2 separate regions of the Homo sapiens genome follow, and region 2 is linked to region 1. The links come from fine-mapping of genetic effects on gene expression. A gene starts in region 1. The other region holds a variant in brackets. All regions are shown on one strand. Distances are from middle to middle.

Region 1 (2,897 bases):
TCGCCCAGGCTGGAGTGCAGTGTTATGATCTCGGCTCACTGCATCCTCTGCCTCCTAGGTTCAAGCGATTCTCTTGCCTCAGCCTCTCGAGTAGCTGGAATTGCAGGTGTCCGCCACCACACTGCCTACTTTTTTTTTTTTTTTGAGACAGAGTTTTGCTCTTGTCGCCCAGGCTGGAGTGCAGTGTTATGATCTCGGCTCACTGCAACCTCCACCTCCCAGGTTCAAGCGATTCTTCTGCCTCAGCCTCCTGAGTAGCTGGGATTACAGGCGCCCGCCACCATGTCTGGCTAATTTTTTGTATTTTTAGTAGAGACGGGGTTTCGCCATGTTGGGCAGGCTGGTCTCGAACTCCTGGCCTAAGGTGATCTGCCCTCCTCGGCCTCCCAAAGTGCTAGGATTACAGGCGTGAGCCACCATTCCCGGCCTAAGCCACCATGCTTGGCCTTGCTTTATTCTTATGGTTAAATATTTTGAACATTCTTAAATTATTAGGAAGATTTTCTAGAAATAAAAATGCTGTTTCAATGGTTGAGTATATTTTTGAGACTCATCCAATGTGGTAGGCACCGTGTTAGGTACTGGGTATATTGTGGTTAATAAAAAACAAATGTATATTCTGTTCTCTTGGAGTCACGTGTTCTTGCAATGAAGAAAGATGAGACTAGGGTAGTACATATATTTAGGTGGCCCTCACAGAATTATTGAGGATGGCACTTAGCCCAGACACTGGATAGGAGGTATTTAGAGATCATTTGTGTAGGTAGTGACATGTAAGCCAAGGTCTGAAGCAGAGAGGTTGGATAATCCATGCAACCTTACAATGTGGAAATAACAGGAAAAACCGTTTACCTAATCTCTGGTCAGAAATCAGAGAACTTGGCCAAAGAACTGAAGGGTTACTGTACTTACTCAAGTTCTTTGTCTATTTAGACAGCATGCACAGCACTTGCACGTGTTTACTTAAAAACTACTGGTATAGCCTCAATTCTTAGAAGACTGAAGTTAGTACGTTTTTATCTAGTTAGCAGTGTGCAACTGCCTAGGGTCAAAATTGCTACTGGCTAGCTGTGTGACTTTGGGCACGTGACCTCGGCGTGCAAAACTCCCTGGTACCCTCAAGGAGGCTCTTGATAAAGTGTTAAAAGTCTGTTTATAAAACAAAAGTGGATGAATGTCGCCCTCCAGGGCTTTGCGGTGCTGGGGCTCGGGGAGCAGCCTCGCAGGTTCGTGCGGGCGGCGGGGGCCCCCTGCTGGCCACATCCTCCAGCCTCCCTCCGCTCGGCCTCCGGCGCGACGTGCGGCCCGGGCCATTTCCTCCCAGGGCGGGGGAAAAGGGAGGAGCTGCCGGTTTAAATTGCCTAGCTGCAGCTCGTGTGCAGGGAGAGGCCGAGACGGCTTAAAGCCTCCAAGAAATTGAGGGAAAAAAGGTGCAGAGATTAAAGTTTTACCTCTTGGTGCCTCCAGCTTCGCTTTTGGCTAACCTAAGTTCCTCTGTTCGGGCGCCTCCATTCCCTTCAACACTCAGCTTGGATATCCTCTGGGGCTCGCCGCGTAGGGCGCCATTTCTCAGCCGGGACAGCGGGCCAGCCCTCAGCACGCTGGAGTCCGGAATCCCCCCCTCCCAACGCCGGGCGCCGGATCCCACCCTAACCCCTCCTCTAATACCCTTGGAACCTAGGACCCAGCGGTTTCGGCACGCCCGGCCCCGCCCCTCCGCGCACCGGCGCCCGCGATTGGCTCCAGGCGGCGCGGCCCCGCCCCTTTCATGGCCGCCGCCTGGCGCCGGGGCTAAGTGGCCGCCGGCGTCCGGGTACCCGAGGGCTCTCCCGCGTTGCTGGCACCGCTGGCGCCGCGGTCTCGTAGCGCATGGGCCTCCTCCGAGGCGGGCTCCCATGCGCTCGGGCCATGGCGCGCCTGGGCGCTGTGCGCTCCCACTACTGCGCCCTGCTGCTGGCCGCGGCGCTGGCCGTCTGCGCCTTCTACTACCTCGGCTCAGGCCGGGAGACCTTCTCCAGCGCCACCAAGAGGCTGAAGGAGGCCCGCGCCGGGGCTCCCGCCGCGCCCTCGCCGCCCGCGCTGGAGCTAGCGCGGGGCTCCGTGGCGCCAGCCCCCGGCGCGAAGGCCAAGAGCTTGGAGGGCGGCGGTGCCGGGCCGGTGGACTACCACCTGCTGATGATGTTCACCAAGGCGGAGCACAATGCCGCGCTGCAGGCCAAGGCCCGCGTCGCGCTGCGCTCACTGCTGCGCCTCGCCAAGTTCGAGGCGCACGAGGTGCTTAACCTTCACTTCGTGAGCGAGGAGGCCAGCCGCGAGGTGGCCAAGGGCCTGCTGCGGGAGCTCCTGCCGCCCGCCGCTGGCTTCAAGTGCAAGGTGAGCGGGCCGCGGCTGGGGGCTCCCGGTGGGTGGCCCACCCCATCCTAGGCGAGGTCAGTTTGCGCTCCCGGAGGGGATCCGGGGAACTAGCGGGTAGGATCTTCCCTGAGCTGCCCGCTTGCAATGTAGTGTTCACAACCTGCGGGAGGGCTCGTTCGGGGGCGTGTCCGGGAGCCAGACGCCCTCAGCTGGTGCTGAGGAGTGGAGCTGCGTTTTTAATGACCGCCTCGTTTTCCTCTCCCCCAGTTAAGCGCAGCCCCCAGGAGAGTCCGCGCGCCCCCATTTTGCTAACGTTGCAGGGTTCAGCACTGCCTTCAGAGTCTGCACCTCTGTTTATGTTCCTCAGTTTTTGACTTCTGAGGATGGGACTGGTCACCAGTAGTCATCCTGAGCAACTGGAGAGGGCCTTGGTGAGGCCTCTGGAAGTGTTGAAGTTGCAGTGACACTTCTCATTGCTCTTAAGGTATTTCAGTAGGATCTGGTCAAACTCATTGTGAACCATCTTATCTCCTCTCTGTGTC
Region 2 (2,897 bases), 180 kb after region 1:
CTTTTTTTGTTTTCCATTGGCTTGGTAGATCTTCCTCCATCCTTTTATTTTGAGCCTATGTGTGTCTCTGCATGTGAGATGGGTTTCCTGAATACAGCACACTGATGGGTCTTGACTCTTTATCCAATTTGCCAGTCTGTGTCTTTTAATTGGAGCATTTAGTCCATTTACATTTAAAGTTAATATTGTTATGTGTGAATTTGATCCTGTCATTATGATGCTAGCTGGTTATTGTGCTCGTTAGTTGATGCAGTTTCTTCCTAGTCTCGATGGTCTTTACATTTTGGCATGATTTTGCAGCGGCTGGTACCGGTTGTTCCCTTCCATGTTTAGCGCTTCCTTCAGGAGCTCTTTTAGGGCAGGCCTGGTGGTGACAAAATCTCTCAGCATTTGTTTGTCTGTAAAGTATTTTATTTCTCCTTCACTTATGAAGCTTAGTTTGGCTGGATATGAAATTCTGCGTTGAAAATCCTTTTCTTTAAGAATGTTGAATATTGGCCCCCACTCTCTTCTGGCTTGTAGGGTTTCTGCCGAGAGATCCACTGTTAGTCTGATGGGCTTCCCTTTGTGGGTAACCCGACCTTTCTCTCTGGCTGCCCTTAACATTTTTTCCTTCATTTCAACTTTGGTAAATCTGACAATTATGTGTCTTGGAGTTGCTCTTCTCGAGGAGTATCTTTGTGGCGTTCTCTGTATTTCCTGAATCTGAACGTTGGCCTGCCTTGCTAGATTGGGGAAGTTCTCCTGGATAATATCCTGCAGAGTGTTTTCCAACTTGGTTCCATTCTCCCCATCACTTTCAGGTACACCAATCAGACGTAGATTTGGTCTTTTCACATAGTCCCATATTTCCTGGAGGCTTTGCTCATTTCTTTTTATTGTTTTTTCTCTAAACTTCCCTTCTTGCTTCATTTCATTCATTTCATCTTCCATTGCTGATACCCTTTCTTCCAGTTGATTGCATCGGCTCCTGAGGCTTCTGCATTCTTCACGTAGTTCTCGAGCCTTGGTTTTCAGCTCCATCAGCTCCTTTAAGCACTTCTCTGTATTGGTTATTCTAGTTATATATTCTTCTAAATTTTTTTCAAAGTTTTCAACTTCTTTGCCTTTGGTTTGAATGTCCTCCCGTAGCTCAGAGTAATTTGATCGTCTGAAGCCTTCTTCTCTCAGCTCGTCAAAGTCATTCTCCATCCAGCTTTGTTCTGTTGCTGGTGAGGAACTGCGTTCCTTTGGAGGAGGAGAGGTGCTCTGCTTTTTAGAGTTTCCAGTTTTTCTGTTCTGTTTTTTCCCCATCTTTGTGGTTTTATCTACTTTTGGTCTTTGATGATGGTGATGTACAGATGGGTTTTTGGTGTGGATGTCCTTTCTGTTTGTTAGTTTTCCTTCTAACAGACAGGACCCTCAGCTGCAGGTCTGTTGGAGTACCCGGCCCTGTGAGGTGCCCCGCTGGGGGGTGCCTCCCAGTTAGGCTGCTCGGGGGTCAGGGGTCAGGGACCCACTTGAGGAGGCAGTCTGCCCGTTCTCAGATCTCCAGCTGCGTGCTGGGAGAACCACTGCTCTCTTCAAAGCTGTCAGACAGGGACCTTTAAGTCTGCAGAGGTTACTGCTGTCTTTTTGTTTGTCTGTGCCC[T/C]GCCCCCAGAGGTGGAGCCTACAGAGGCAGGCAGGCCTCCTTGAGCTGTGGTGGGCTCCACCCAGTTCGAGCTTCCCGGCTGCTTTGTTTACCTAATCAAGCCTGGGCAATGGCGGGCGCCCCTCCCCCAGCCTCGCTGCCACCTTGCAGTTTGATCTCAGACCGCTGTGCTGGCAATCAGCGAGACTCCGTGGGGTAGGACCCTCCGAGCCAGGTGCGGGATGTAATCTCGTGGTGCGCCGTTTTTTAAGCCCGTTGGAAAAGCGCAGTATTCAGGTGGGAGTGACCCGATTTTCCAGGTGCGTCTGTCACCCCTTTCTTTGACTCCCTTTGAAAGGGAACTCCCTGACCCCTTGCGCTTCCCAAGTGAGGCTTTGCCTCGCCCTGCTTCGGCTCGCGCACGGTGCGCGCACCCACTGACCTGCGCCCACTGTCTGGCACTCCCTAGTGAGATGAACCCGGTACCTCAGATGGAAATGCAGAAATCACCGTCTTCTGCGTCGCTCACGCTGGGAGCTGTACACCAGAGCTGTTCCTATTCGGCCATCTTGGCTCCTCCAGTAGCATCTAATTTTAATGCCCGCTTTGATCTGGCTGTTAAAAATTCCACTCTTTATGTTCATTCAAATTCCAGTTGGCTGTTCTGGGTAAGCCCAGGCCCCAGTGCCCTATCCGGAGAGAGCTGAGAAGTTGCAGGCCCTGCGTGCAGGGAGCCTGACTGCCTTGTCTCTGTGCTCTACCAGCTCCAGGCATACCTGTGTTGATACCTGAATAGAGCGCGCAGTGGGGAGAGACAGGGAGGGTAGCTCAGATGCTTTTCTGCTTTCACAGGGAGCACCCCAAGCACAGCAGATTTTCAAGAGATTTATCTGGAAGGCCTGGAGAAGCAACTCAAGCACAAGGGATCTGAGGAGGAGCCAGGGAGCACATTTCCAGTTTAAAGGGGAAAAATGTCTCCCTGGAGAGTGGGTACAAACGGGAAGAGGGCGGAAGAGGAGCTCCAGGGCCACACGCAGCCTGGCAAGGGCAAGGCCGGCTGTGTCCAGAGGAGCAGGAAAGGCGGGTTTGCTGCAGGCCACCTGGAGAGACGGTGGCGTGTCAACGGGCCACACGGGCAGTGCCTCCCAGCCCCCTTACTGCTCCCCGCAGCCTGCCCTGAGTTTAGAGAAGCTGCACCGAGGCAGGAGGAGGTGACCACAGTGCTGCCACCAAGGCGACCTGGAGCTGGGAAGGCCTAGGAGGCCACTCTCCCTCCTTGTGGTACAGG

What was found. PIP is the estimated chance that this variant, and not a neighbour inherited with it, causes the effect.
Region 2: its variant is fine-mapped to the expression of XXYLT1 in whole blood (INTERVAL, PIP above 0.99).

Annotation. Positions count from the first base shown.
Region 1 is chr3:195,270,031-195,272,927 of GRCh38, reverse strand. XXYLT1 (xyloside xylosyltransferase 1) reads left to right here and starts at 1,769. Exons shown (of 4, transcript NM_152531.5): 1 at 1,769-2,373. The coding sequence starts at 1,870. RefSeq lists silencers at 1,139-1,368, 1,619-2,148, 2,309-2,488 and an enhancer at 1,739-2,530.
Region 2 is chr3:195,086,965-195,089,861 of GRCh38, reverse strand. All of the region lies in intron 3 of XXYLT1 (xyloside xylosyltransferase 1), which reads left to right. Among named protein-coding and RNA genes, the nearest start is that of XXYLT1-AS1, 6.2 kb to the left of the region's middle. The variant T/C (reference allele first, on the strand shown) is at 1,631.